2 linked regions of the Homo sapiens genome follow. The protein of the gene in region 1 interacts with the protein of each later gene in a pairwise test. Each region holds a gene or a part of one and is shown in the gene's direction. Other genes may lie near its edges.

The links.
Region 2: the proteins of SCYL3 (region 1) and LHX8 interact in binary tests that used the Homo sapiens proteins (3 or more experiments, as listed by UniProt).

The regions. Positions count from the first base shown.
Region 1 is NC_000001.11:169,890,717-169,898,552, reverse strand, and holds the start of SCYL3 (protein-associating with the carboxyl-terminal domain of ezrin), read left to right. Parts: upstream 1-4,656; 5' UTR 4,657-4,765; exon of another isoform or gene 4,766-5,077; intron 5,078-7,836. UniProt on the Homo sapiens protein: May play a role in regulating cell adhesion/migration complexes in migrating cells.
Region 2 is NC_000001.11:75,144,318-75,151,593, forward strand, and holds part of LHX8 (LIM/homeobox protein Lhx8), read left to right. Parts: intron 1-4,269; coding exon 4,270-4,365; intron 4,366-7,276. UniProt on the Homo sapiens protein: Transcription factor involved in differentiation of certain neurons and mesenchymal cells.

The DNA.
Region 1 (7,836 bases):
AAATTATTTCTATTAAGAAAACAAACTATTTGTTTCTAACTGTCCCACCAGCCACATTCCAAGGACAGCGGATTCAGGTTGTTGGAGATTCTTTTCTTTCCTGGCCTTAGACATATTTAAAATGAGGACTGAGGAATCAGTGAGGGAATACAAGATTTCTATGCATAAGAAAGGCAGAAGGAGCTCAGAGAGCAGCTCCAGGGAACTGAGAACTGGAACCAGAGCTATAGAGGGCTCTGTGGGGTAAGGGCTGGGAGGCAGAGAGATGTAGGGAGGGTGCCTGGGACATGCAGTGTGCTCTCAGTAAATTCATTTGTGTGTTTAATATTTACTGAGTACCTAGTATGTTCTAGGCACTGTGTTATGTGCTAGAAATATGGCAGGAAAGAAAGAAATGAAGGAAGGAAGCCCTGTTTTCAGGGAGCTGATGTTCTAGCTGTGGGACAGAGATGCTGAACAAATATGTGCATTGGTGTTAAGCAAAATAAGGCAAAGTCAAAAGACAGGAAGAGGCAGGTAAGGTGCTGTTTTAGACAGTGTTTTCAGGGGAGCTGTCTCTGATAAATTGCATTCAAGTAGAATTTTCAAAATATAATTATAACTCTCATGCAAATATAAAATGAACACATTAGTTAATGAGGAAACTAAAAAGACATTAAGACTGTTCAAAGAGCATTTGTGTAGCTACATACTTACAAGCAATTTTATAAAGAAATACAGTAAGATTACTAGATTAGATTTTAAAATGAGAAATGCTCTCTAGTGCAATAAGAATAAACTTTGGGGTTAACTTTTCCACTGGACAGAAAGATTTGCATCTTTGTTGGACAAAAATATACAAGTTAGCCTGTGATTTCAATGCCCCAAATCTTTAAGAGTCTGAACAGGTGACATTTGTTCAGAGACCTGAGTGACATCAAGAGCAAATAGGTGAGTAGATGAAGAGTGAAGAGGGGAAGGACTGAGTGTCAAACTCCCTCCCATCTCTCTCCTACTCCATTCACTGCAAAATATTCCCTTCTCATTGATATTTGGAGGAGTGGGTTTACCTTGGGGAAATGAAAGGAAATACAGAGTCCTCTAGGCTGATGAATGATTATAGAGGATACCCTGGAGCTCAGCACATCTGGACATAAGATTAGGGAGCAAGGAACAGGGTGGGAAGGCCAGCAAAGACTCAGAGGTGAGGACACTGGGAAGAGGGTGGGCCAGCAAGTAGCTGTGTTGACTGCAGAAGATTTCACGTACTGGTTGAAGGGACTCATCTCTACTCCTCCTGTAAAAGGAGGAAAAACATAGTTATGAACTCTCGAGGGATAGTGTGAAAGGCAAGAGAATCCTTCTGTCTTTCAAATCGACATCCTCAGCATGTTCTCCCGCTGTCTCCTGGTGCTTGGGTGGCTGCTGCTGTTACACCCACAGCCATTTCCTTTAATAGGGAGGAAAAACCTTTCCTAATCCACTGTCTATCTTCCTCCCAACTTCTGCTATGTCTCACCGGCCAGAACTTGTGACCACCCTAGCGGGAAAGTAGGCTCAGAAAGTGATCTTTTTGATTTCTTAACTTCTTTATCGAAGGTGAACAAGGGAGAAGGGGGTGAGGAGTGGGAATGGATGTTGGAGCTAGTAAACCTAGGGTCTATGTGTTGTATTTCTTTTCTAATTCGGTCTCGAGGTCTCTCTCTGGGAGTGGTTATAAACGTTAGCTCTTCCGTGATGGGGCTTGGATATTTACAGTGTGCCTTCCATGGAATACTTCTTTATCCTGGCAGACGGCCTAAATCCTAGGTGTCTGACCCATGACAGGAGGTCCCTCTCACAGGAAGCTTGTTTATATTAGCAGGCACATTTGTGGCTCTTGTCTGCCCCGTGTCTGGTTTATTCCAACCAAGACAGCCACTCTCTAGGAGAGCCCTAACCAGGAAACAAGTCAGGTGTGGGTGTATAGGTCAGGTGAGACACAGAGGAGGTGAACAAAACATGTGAAATAATAGAAGCAGTTTCATTACTTACAGATCCATAATAAGAGGACAGCATGCCTCACAGGGCCAATGAGAAGGGGGACACACATGCTCAACCAGTGGGAGGGGGACGAGACAGAGAGAGGGACTTGCGGGCCAAAGCCTTCACTGTGGTCCTGGGTCCAACATCTTAGTCCCACTGTGACTAAGAGGTGGTCACTGAGGCATATCTGCAAAGTATATGTGGGGTATAGGGGTCAAGGGGATGAAGCAAGCAGCTTGTACCTGATGGTTCGATAGGGAGGTGGTCACCAGAGGCGGTCATACAAGGCAGATGTCTGGACTGACCACATAGAGGAAGTGGGAGGAGGCACAGAACTAGAGACTGTCCAGGGTGACTAAGCCCTGCTTCTAGTTTGAGAAGGTTAAACCTGTCCTCAGAATGGATAGTGAGGCCTTTGATATGTTCTCCCACCTCTTCATCAAGCATATTGACAAATCCTTTTTCACCAACTTGTCTTGCTATAACCGCCCAGTAGGTTCACCTTGCCGTCTGCCTAGATAGAGCCAATTTATCAAGACGGGGAATTGCAATAGACAAAGAATTCATGCAGAGCTGGCTGTGTGGGGGGCCAGAGTTTTATTATTACTCAAATCAGTCTCCTCCAGCAGTCGAGTTTTTAAAGACAATTTGGTGGGTGGGGAGGGGCAGTAAGTCAGGGAGTGCTGATTGGTTGGGTCGGAGATGAAACTATGGGGCATCACTGTCTTCTTGAACTGAGTCAGTTCTGGGTGGGGGTCACAAGATCAGATGGGCCAGTTTATCATCTGGGTGTTGCCAGCTGATCCATCAAGTGCAGGGTCTGCAAAACATCTGAAGCACTGATCTCAGGAGCAGTTTAGGGAGGGTCAGAATCTTGTGGCCTCCAGCTGCATGACTCCCAAACCATAATTTCTAATCTTGTGGCTAATGTTGGTAGTCTAGACCCCAGGCAAGAAGGAGGTTGGTTTTGGGAAAGGGCTTTTATTGTTTTTGTTTTAAACTGTAAATTATAAACTAATTTCCTTCCAAAGTTAGTTCAGCCTATGCCCAGGAATGAACAAGGATAGCATGGAGGTTAAGGACAAGATGGAGTTGGTTAAATTGGATCTCTTTAACTGCCTTAGTCATAATTTTGCAAAGGCAGTTTCATTGCTACCTGAATGATTTTCCTAACTTATCCATCAATCTCCTGGAAGCCTTTCTCCTTAACCAATGTCTTCAACTCTGCCAGACATGTGGCAGCTTCTTCATCAGCAGATGTGGCCTCTCCAGTTATTTTTATGTTTTTCAGTCCAAACCTATTCCTGAATCTGTGTAGCCATCCCTTACTTGCAGTAAATAGCTTGGTGTGCCTAATTTCAGGGGATCCCTTTCTTAAGTCTTCCTATAGGCTCAACACTTTCTGGCAAAACTTACTGCGGTCAGCTGAAATACGTTTTCTGTTCATGTCTCCCACCCACAAATGTAATGCCTTTTCCGTCTTTTGCTGTTGCACCTCAAACTACAAAAGTTACAGCCACAGTGCATGATAGGTGCTTAGTTAACTAGCACGAATCTTTTTCCTTCTTCACAATTTCATGGATAATTTGTTCTTATCATAGATTTTGGCAACCTCAGCATATGACTCTTTTTCTTTCCTTATTAAGTCCAGAGCTTTCACCTTTTCATTTAAAGGAAGCACTTTACAGCTTCTCCTCGGCATATCCAAATTGTCAGCACAATTCCTGTGCTTTGCGGCCATTATTAAGTAAAATAAGGGTTACCTGAACATAAGCAGGTGGTATCTCTCATTATCTCTGCTATACTACGGGTGCATCTGTTAACCAAAGCAGCTACTGAGTGGGTAATGAGTGGATACTGTACACAGCGCGGCTACCTGCGACAGATGATTCGCGTCAAGGGTGGGACAGAGTGGATGGCCCGAGATTTAATCGGGCTACTCAGAATACAGGCGGTTTGAAACTTAAGAATTGTTTATTTCTGGAGTTTTCCATTTAACATTTCTGAACCAAGGTTTGACCACAGGTAACTGACACTGCAGAAAGCATGGAGGGGGGCAAAACTACTGCATTAATATTAAAATTTTCAAATATTACTTTTTGCTAAATGAAATGTGATTCAGGACCTTCCCTCTCAAAGATCAAGCGAGATCACCACGACCTCCGCCAGCAGCGGCTCTGCACGACTCCACCCTCGCAGCCCAGCCAATCAAAGCTACAGGTTGAGTGACGTCACTCTCCTGAAAGTCCTCGCTAATTCCCGTACTCCTTTTCTCCGCCCTGCACCTCTACTGTTTGCTACAAGTGGCCAGCAGCCATTTTGGATTTGGGCGGAAATGAAATTAAAACTGTGCTGTTAAAAGCCTAAAAATTCAAGTCAAGACAAACTTAAGCATTCGACCAACACATCTAGAAAGGGGGCATCTTCGTGGACTAACTAGACCACTGGGGCAGTGAGTGAAACTCGGTATCGTCGCGGCGCCCACACTTAAGATGGCACCGGCCTGAGACTCAGCTGTGCGGCCTCTCTACCTCGGTTCCTGGTTAGTTGGCCTCATTGGTGGCGTCGGAGGGAGGAAGGTGGGCCTTCTGTCCCGTTTCCGGACCCGTCTCTATGGTGTAGGAGAAACCCGGCCCCCAGAAGATTGTGGGTGTAGTGGCCACAGCCTTACAGGCAGGCAGGGGTGGTTGGTGTCAACAGGGGGGCCAACAGGGTACCAGAGCCAAGACCCTCGGCCTCCTCCCCCGCCGCCTTCCTGCAGGTAACAGGGAGCCCTGCGCTGCGCCCCCAGTCCTTGCAGGACTGCGCCGTGGGGGAAGGGGCCGGGCGGGGAGGAGGCGGCGGGCGCGCGCCCCGCTCGCGGGTCTGCGCTCTGGGGCCCGCGCGGGAGCGAGCTCGGCGCGGCGCCGGCGGCCGGTTGAGCTGTGCTCTCAGCTTCGGAGCAGCCTCCCCTTGCTGATTGTGGGGCGCCCTGTAATCTGCGCTTCGCGGGCGGCCCCCGACGGGTGAGGCGCCCGCGGCCAGAGCTCTCCAAGGCGGCCGCGGAGTCGGTCCTCGCAGGGAGGTGTGGAAGGTGAGGGGCCAGCGAAGCGAGAGCGGCGCCTCGGCCCTTCAGTGACCCCGCGGGGTCGCGGCAAGCAGGGCGAGGGTGCTCGGCTGGGCGGGTCACTGTCCCGGGGCGGCAGTGCCCGAGCCCGGGGGGATCCTGGGGGCGCGCCCGCCCTCGGGAAGGCGGCCTCATTCTTGATCCAAGACCAGTGCCCGTCCCCCAAGGCCCAGCTGGCTCCTGTCTTGGCATAGTGCTTTCTGTTTAGAATAAAGATGAAACATTTCTCGGAAGAGCATATTCAGGAATCCATGTGAAATTCTCGGAGTCGGGTCTCGAATTTTGGGGGTCACTGTTAACTGCTGTTTTTAGGGACCCATGTTCTTATAAAATGTATCTTGAGCTGAAATCACAATTATTTTGGTCCATAAAGACTTAATTGTGTATTGCTTGTCAGCTAGCAATGCTGGACTGAGTTCCGCAGAGGGAATATATACCTGAAACACGAAAGCAAGGGCCGGAGTAACGTTACCGCTGGATACCAGAATATCAGCCAGTACAGTGCATCCTTAATACTCAGAGTGCAAGCCATTATCTTTGGAACTTTCAAGCTAAGGGAGCTAGGACCAAGGTAGTCTCGAGTAATTGCTGGGAAAAGAAAATATTTGGTAGAAACATTTCCATAGAGCACACGGGTTTCTTAGTTGAGTGTATGAGTTGCCCTTTGACCTAGACAAGGGTTTTCTTAATCTACAAGCGGTCCAGAAATTTTATGTGCTGCCCAAGTAGGCAAAAGAGTGGAGGGAGATTATTAAAGGGAAGACTGATGCATATTCAAGTCAGAGACTGTCAACTCAGCATTTTATTATAGAGTGGAGATGCTAAGTGCTACGAAATACCTATTACGGGATACTAGGATATCCTTTTCTACCTTCTTGTGACTTTTTAATTTCAAAGCTAATGAGCAAGATTTTGTGTTTTCCCCGTCCTCAAAACAACAGGAAAGCATTTTGGAAGGCCAAGTGTTTTTCTTACATTTCAATAAATCAATTTTAGCTGAATTATCATTTTTAAAGCACTGGCGGGCATGGTGGCACATGCCTGTAATCTCAGCAACTAGGGAGGCTGGGGAGGGCAGGTAGCTTGAGCCCAGGAATTCCAGGTTACAGTGAGATAGGATAGCGCCAATGCACTCTAGGCCAGCAGCAACAGAACAAGACCATATCTCTATTTAAAACAAAAAACAAACAAAAAAACTTCTTCATATAACAGTATTTGTGCTTCTTTAGATATATTAGTGTGAAGAATTACTGCTTCAAAACATTCTCAAATTGCAATAATCAGCACACCTTTTTAATTTTCCCCCAATAAAGTTTGCACTGGGAACATACAATATAATCTTACCACTGTCAGTATTACACTGATGGTATCAGTGGACTTCTGTCAAAGTTAACATGCTTTCAAAACAAGAAAATGGCATCCTTTCCAGTTCTCTCAAGAAATTGAGTCATCCCTTTTTAATTTTTAAGTGATTTTTTTAGTCTTAGACCTAAAATACAGTAAGAAAAATGAATTTTAACTACTTCCTAATGCTTTTATAACTTTGTTAATTATAGTGGAATTCATATGAAATCTAAGGTTAATAGCTATTGCAAGGCCAATGTTCCCACAAGGAAGTATTTTGCTATTTAGAAATAGCTAAGTAAATTAAATGTTCCTTTCTCTTGCCTCTGGTGACTGCCATTCATCAGCCAGAGCACTGACCCTGAATCCTGGTGGCAGTCTTATCTCCCATGAGGATTAATATTAACACTTAAATAAACAGCATGATTTCCTGCGAAGAAGATATTCATTAATATACAGTCCCTTATTCTCTGCTTTTCTCTTAATTGTGTGTTGATTTTGGAAAGCTGTGTTTTGTGGGTGAGAGAGAGACGGTCAGACTAGCTTCAGATACTTTCAAAGTAACACTTCTGTAACTCACTCTTCCAGTCTGACTGGCTTTTCAGGCAGGAGTTGGAGACCAAGTAGAGCTTTCTGCCTATGAAATGGCAATTAGTTTCAAAGAACATAGACCCATTCAAGTTACCTGAGGAAAAGGGGGCTGGTTGTAAGGGTGTCAATGGGATGTTAGGGTATCTGGGTGGAATTAGATTTGAGGCTGGGCTTCCGGTAGTCTTGAGATGGATAGTAGTAATGTGCCCCCTAAGTATGACTAAGCTACGGTCCCAGTGTTTGCTTTTTAAAATTTTACTACCAACTGACTTCCTCTGGAAAGTTTCTGACTTCATGTGGCTTTGGTTTGCCGTAGCTCCACCTCCACCTCATAGCATCCTTCTACCTTCGGCTATGCTTCTAATAGGCAAAAATTGTTCTTAGTTCAAATTCCTGGGGGAGACAATGATCTGGCCAGTTTATCTCTTCACTCAGGCCATGAAATTGATGGCTAATTTGTGAATTAACCGCCCTTTGGCCCAGGATAGGTACCTGCCAACATTAACTGTGCCCAAGAAGAGGTGGCAAGATCAAGTGCTAAGCATAATCCTCCCTACTCAGCAGGAGGTTGTGACAATCTGGCCAGCACTCTATCTCCAGAACAGAGGGATTAGCATTGTTGCTTTTACCCATGGTCCCACATAAACTTTTTATTTGTAGTCCCAGTAGAAAGGTGAATGTTACCATAGTTGCCATACTTGGCATTTCTTTTAGTACTGTTTTTTGCTTCTCTGTCATTTTTAAGAAAGATACATTGCCAGGTAGGTAGGAATTCAGTGAATTTGTTACAA
Region 2 (7,276 bases), about 95 Mb from region 1:
TACATGTCCCATGTGAGTCTATGGGACGCTAATGTGTTAGTCTTTGTAACAAACTGCAATGAGTCATTTAATGAACACAATTGTACAGTTTTTGAGTAGGAAATAATTGAAAGTGCCTTAAAGTAAATAGGAAACTACTGGTTGACTACAATTGAGCAGATTCCTTTATGTTTTTAAAGGTGGTAAAGGGAGTACTTCTATAATTTGATATTAAAGTTTTATTATGTCCCCTGAAAAGGGAGGGATTTTTTTTAGCTTAGTTGCCCTAAACATGATTGTTATAAATTTGATTTATACAAATTATCAAAATAATTAAATTACTCTTTGCTTTATAAACCTATATAATGATTCCTTCTGGCATTTTTGCAGATAATGAAATCATATTTTCTAAAAGATTAATGTGGCTGAGGTATTTGTTTCATGTTAAGGAAAAGTAACATTTGTTGAACGCCTATCACACTGCTGGGTACCTTATACATAGTATCCATCTTAGCTCAGACTTTAAAGGACATTTATGCAGTGTTAACAAATGAATAAAAGTAACTTTTTCGAAAATCACGTTTAGTATTCTAAGACCTGCCAGTATTTAAGATGGATACAAGTGTTTCAGGAGATAATTTTTATTTTGAGAATGATTTAGAAAAGAAACCTTGATGTGACACACATATTCCAAGGGAACGTGGCAATGGGAAGCACTCTAGCATTAAAATCTAGATCCATTCAGAAGAATTTTCCAAATGGATGATTGTTTCAGATTTCTTAATTTAGGCATAAATTCGATTTCTTAATTTAGGCATAAAGTACATAGTCAATAAGCAAAAAATGAAAGATAAGCCAATTGAAAGAAATATCTCTGTTTGAGCCTTGCTTTCTGGGTTCTTCATTGGATTATTATGAAGATCACACAATGCCCTGTCAGAAGATGTGAGTACTTCTGAAAGACCTGGAAAAATACTCAGTCACTAAAGGTGTCTAGTTAAAATAGAATCTCTAATATAAATCTGTTTTCACAATGGTCTGTTCCCATGAAGGACTGGCTGTAATTTTAATAATTACAAGGTTGATAACTTTCATTTGATATAATAATTTATTATTAAAAATAAAATTGTGAAAATTTGAAACCACTGTAGATAGACACTTTTCTATGGGAAAATAATTACAAATACTAATTAAATAAAATGGGAATAATATTTGTGGAGGTCTTTTTATGCCAAATCCTATACCAGGCATTTATCTACTTTATCTCCTTTAACTTTTACAACAAACCTCATTCAAGAGTGCAGGAACTCCTCAAAGCAAACCACCAAGGGAGTGGTTGAGAAGAGATTTGGAACCTTCTCCTCAAACATCTGGTCTCTTCATTTTGCTTGATCTTCCAGGAGACCATGAGTGGAAGTCTGTCTTATCAAAACTCCAATTAATAGCAGCAGCAGCTAAAACAAAAGAGTGAGATTTTGAATCTTGTAGATAGCCTTATGGTTAAACATGCATAAAATATTTAAGCCTTACATTATGGTATGTAAATGTGATCTAAATCATAAGTTTTAAAAATTGTATATCAGAATTATAGGTTTTAAAAAATGAAAGCATATTACCATTTTCAGATTACTGATGAAAGCATAGGTAATATGCTTTCAAAGTATATTCTCATTCAATATTTATTAGCATTTTATCTTATGGAAGGGGTGGCTGAAACAAATGAGATACAATCTTTGTCCTAAAGTGGTTCTTTATAATTTAGGAATCTGAAATAGATATTTTAAAAAACTGAATCATTTATTTTAGCCAGACACTCTAATAAATCGGTATCCTTATTGTCAAACTCTCCTACATTTAGGAATGCTGAATATTTTCAACTAGAGCTTGAATTTGGCAAGATAATAAAATATTACATGTGACCAGTGAGTAAGTCAAGACTATCTAGTCAGTACCTGCTTTGGACAGAGGAGAGTTAAAATGGAAGGGATAAATAAGAAAATTTTCCAAAATTATTCTATAGAGATTTATGGGGAGAAAAAATAGTTTAAGACTCAGAGGATGTATTGGCAAATATATTTCAAATACCGTCCCATTTGTAGAAATGATATTTAAGAATTTCCTGCTAATATTATGGATTGCTTATTCTATGTAGAAGCACTCACTTAGTGATTATTAATATTAAACACGCCAAAGTTAGCTCCTGCTTTAGTCTGTTTTCAGATCGAGTTACTGCTATGCAGCCTCCTGACTTTTCTGGTAGATCTCCTGGCCTAAAAATGATGAGTGTCTACAGAGGCTCACTCCTTGTCCACGTTAGAAGAACTTGGAAAAGGAGTGAAGTAGGCTTCAGCAGCATTAGTGCCTAGAGAATAGTGAAACTAAGTAGAAATTAAAAGTACCTCTTTTTTCTTTTTGTGTGTGTGAGACTAATCATTGATACTATTGAAAGGAAGAACAATCAACTCATCTTACTTTTCCTTTAGAATATTTCAATTCTAAATGATCAGAGTTGTTTTGCTTTACTCTTTAATGAGAAATTACTTAACTAAATACAATTTGATTGCAGTTAAATTTGTGAATTTAAAAATGCATTTATGAAAGGCATGAAGTTTCTGTTTTGTAAATTATTAATAATGACCTTACAAAATCCCCAAATCTGTTCAACATTTTTCTATTTGAAAAATTAAAAAACAAAGACATAATTTGCTCGTTCTTTTTGGGGTTATTACATGTTCAACTGCATAGAAACATAACTCTATTTTCACAGGAAGATACCAAAGTAACACATTTGGAGTAGGAAAGAAAGAATAAAGTGAACTGAGCAAGAATAAACTTTTAAGCCAATTCTGCCCTTTTTTAAAAGCAAAAATCCATGTTCTGTTTACAGTGAGTCTGTAGATACAATATAGTTAGATGGGAAGCCAAGAATACTTAATTCTAGAAGGGTAAATTTGTAAATCTCAAAATTTGTAAACCTCAGAAGGTTTCCCAGAACAATATTGGCCTTTTTTTCTACACTGTCTTCAGATTTTCCTTACATTGCCAAGTTTTACTCTGTCAGAAACTCTTAACATACTCTCTGACAGAAAGGGAGTTTAACTCCTAGGGATACGAAAAATAAGACATTCCCCTTGATCTCAAGGAACTCACTTTCCACTATGGAGATAAACTTGAAAACAAATTATTTAGCTACCCTGTGACAAGTGCAGTGGCAGAAGATAGCATTATATGAGGAGCATAGTGGAGAATGCAATTAATTTTGCCTGCTGAAAAGAGTGAAGTCCAGCAGTGCTTGAGGTCTTTAATAGATTGGTTACCCACATCCTATGCCTGTAGACAAGCACAATCACATTGGGTGCCAAGCTCTTCTCTCTCATTCTTCATAATAATACATTTTTTACATTTTGTAATGCTTCCCTCAGTTGACTGACTTTTAGTAATAAAATTCAAGTATCTCACTTAATTCTCATAATGATTCTCTTTTCTGAAAGAATTCAAAGTTTTTGGCTTGTGCTTATATTCTGGTACTCTCTCCCACACTACTCTTCTCCCTTTATCTTTTATTATAGGTAGTCATTGGCATGTCGGCATCTTTCTGCCAGGAAATTAAATCCAAAGAGTTTTGTTTCATGTTTCACTATCTCTTAGCACTTGGCATAGTGGTTTCAATCCAAAGGCTTACATCAGAATCACCTGTAAGCTTTTAAAATATATACATGTTTAGACTCTGGTAAATTCTTATTCAGTGGACTGGTGAGTGTCTCTTTTTAGACACCTTTTTTTTTGCATAGAGCTAGTGCTCAAAACTATGATGGAGTTGTTACAATTAAGTGGAATCCTTCTGTTGATCTGTATACTATTAGGTATTAGGGGCCTTGAACATCTTTAGCTCAGGAAAGGTTGGAGACAAATGTGATATGATTTTTGTATTAAGTTTTCAAATGTTGGCAGTTTTTAACAAAATGGAAAAAACAATAAATGAAACTCTTGCTATTTGATTTGTGGGTTATAAGATTGAAAGAAAAGAAAAGGTGAGCTTATTTTTAACAGCATAGTTGAGAGAGTTTTACATTGAAATGGATTTTTTTAAAGTTCTCAGCATAGCAACTTGTGTATAAATTTACAAAATATGCATTCGTTTTCACTTACCCATATTTCCCCATACCGATTTTCAAGTAACAAAAGTATCCCATGTTCTTGTGCATGTCTTACCTCTTATGATAAAAATGCAGGAAGAAGACTGAGCTGCTTGTTTTTAGCTATTTACTACATACATGTTTTAAACAACAGGTTATGCAAGCACAATTTGCTCAGGACAACAACCCAGATGCACAGACACTCCAGAAATTGGCAGAAAGGACAGGCTTGAGCAGACGTGTGATACAGGTGATTACTTTACTTTTTTTTTTTTTTAAGGTTTTTAAAAAATAGATATTGGGTCTCCCTATGTTGCCCAGACTGATCTTGAACTCTTGAGCTTAAGTGATTCTCCCACCTCAGCCTCCCAAAGTAATGGGATTACAGGATGAGCCACTGTACCTGGCCACAGGTGATTAACTTAAAGGTCAATCAAGAGAAACAAAAAGTTCTAATTCTGGGTATTTATAAGTATGCATTGGTGTTTTTTTGTGTGTGAAGAAATGTGAAAACATTGCTTTTTCATTTTAAGTCTCTTCACATTCTAAATCAAATTTTTAAAATGTAATGATTATCCTGCTTGGGCTAGGCTACCATTTGTCAAATGAGTCTTTGCTCATGTTACTTCATTCAGTACTCACAGCAACCCTAAGATCCTCAGGCTAAACATGTTCCAAGATAAATCTTGCTCTAAGGTCAGTGTTTTTCCTACTTTTTTTATGATTGTGTGTGTGATGGCTGCTGATGGCCTTTGCCAAAGATCCAGGGAGAGGAACTGGTGTGAACAAAGCTGAAAAGTGATGAATTAGTGCAAGTTTTTTCAAATGTAGAATTTATGTTTGGAAATAGTGGGAAATGAAATTGTTGGAGTTAAAGTTGGAGAGGCCTGTGAATGCAGAGTTCTCTTATGAGCAGGTAAAAGCCATGATATGTGATTTTAGGAAGAAAGGGCTAGTCACAGCACATGGGAAGAACTGGAGTTGGGAGAGACTAGATAGAGGTAAGCAGCTTAGTTGGAAGGCTGGAATGCCCAGCAACGTAGTGTGGTTTTGTTGTTGTTGTTGTTGTTGTTTGTTTTTTGTTTGTTTGTTTCTGAAGAGACACTTTACTGGGGTAGAATTCATTTGGGAAACTTTTTGAAACAGGGTCATGGGTGGCCTAGGCTGGAGTGCAGTGACGCAATCACAGCTCACTGCAGCGACCTCCAGGTCTCAGGTGATCCTCCCACCTCAGCCTCCCAAATAACTGGGACCACAGTTGCACACCACCACGCCTGGCTAATTTTTAAATTTTTGTAGAAACAGAGTCTCACCGTGTTGCCCAGGCTGGTCTCAAATTCCTAGACTCAAGTAATCCTCCTCCCTTGGCCTCCCAAAGTGCTGGAATTATTGGCAATGAGCCACCATGCCCAGCTGAGAAACATTTTATTGAGTGAACACTGATGACAGTTGATGGATGCTAGAAAGACAAGAAAGAATTGGTAACTGCAATGGGGAAGCAGAGAGGAGTCAAAGAGTAAATGACTCTGCCAGGCTCAGTTGCTCACACCTGTAATCCCAGCATTTTGGGAGGTCAAGGCAAATATGTCACTTGAGTACAGGAGTTTGATACCAGTCTAGGCAAGATGGTGAAACCCCATCTCTACAGGAAAAAAAACAGCCAGGCATGCTAGTGTGTACCTGCAGTCCCAGCTACTTGGGAGGCTGAGGTGGGAGGGTCACCTAAGTCCAGGAGGTTGAAGCTGCAGTCAGCCATGATAGTACCACTGCACTCCAGCCTGGGTGATGGAGTAAGATCCTCTCTCAAAAAAGTCAGTGACTTATAAATTTCAAGTCAAAGTAATCTTGGGAATGGTGCCATTGACAGGAATGTGAAAGTCAAAAGAAAGCTGGATTGGAAGTTGGACCCTTTTAGCTGTGCTAATTATGCAGTGATGGTGGCAGTTAACTATGCAAACAGGTATTTGAAAGAATGAACAGGACTCAAGCAAAGAGATCTAATGCCATGAAATTAGATAAGATCCTTTAGAAAGAGATCATAGGGTATAAAAGGTGAAGAACGGGTTTCAGAGAGGAGAGCAGGGTAAGAGGTGCTATTTAAATGGGACGTAGTAACAGCCAGAGTTGAGGAAGGAGTCGGGTGGAGAAGAAGCATGGAAGCTGAAGAAGTGGGGTGAATTCAAGAACGAGATGGCCAGCTGTGTCAAGATTATCAGAGAGACCAGGGAAATGGAAAATAATTTTATTTCTTTTTTTTTTTTTTTTCGAGACAGAGTCTCTGTCACCCAGGCTGGAGTGCAGTGGTGTGATCTCGGCTCACTGGAACCTCCGCCTCCCGGGTTCAAGCAATTCTCCTGCCTCAGCCTTCTGAGTAGCTGGGATTACAGGTGCAAGCCACCATGCCTAGCTAATTTTTGTATTTTTAGTAGAGACGGGGTTTCACCATGTTGGTCAGGCTGTTCTCAAACTCTTGACCTTGTGATCCGCCCGCCTCAGCCTTCCAAAGTGACGGGATTACAGGGGTGAGCCACCGTGCCTAGCCGGAAAATAATTTTAAATAACACCGGAAGTTCAAAAAATTTAAGGAGTGAAAGCAAGTAACCATAAAAGGCAAGAGGAAACTCAGGGAGGGGAAAGGCAAATGTCTTCATTGCACATATTTTATTTTGTTTCTTAATTTGGGTGGTTGATACATGGGTACTTATTCTTCTGTAAGCCTAAAGGTTTCATAATTAACAAATCACCTGTACGAAGAAGCAGATGGAAAAGACCTGATGATACTGCAGCTTCTCTAAAGACCTAGGGTTCACAGTGTTTTAATTGACTGCAAGGTAATGAGGCTGTCTTAGGAGACAAGTTCTACCACTTCAGCACTTTCAGATATCCAGATTATTGTGCTTATTTCAGAGTGCCAAATTTTAAGAAGGGACTAATAAGCAATCTGAAAAACATACTACCTCAAAGGCTACCAGGGTTGTGAAAGATTTAGATCATGCCATAATATTAAAGGCAGCAGGGATATTTATCTGGAGATAAGGCCAGGAGATGGTAAGAGAAAGAGTAATATCCAGAGTAGGTGTCTTTAAATATTTGTGAAAGGCTTCCCTGCAACGGAATGTAGAAAAAGGCACTGGTGTTCACTCATAATGAATTTTCTCATT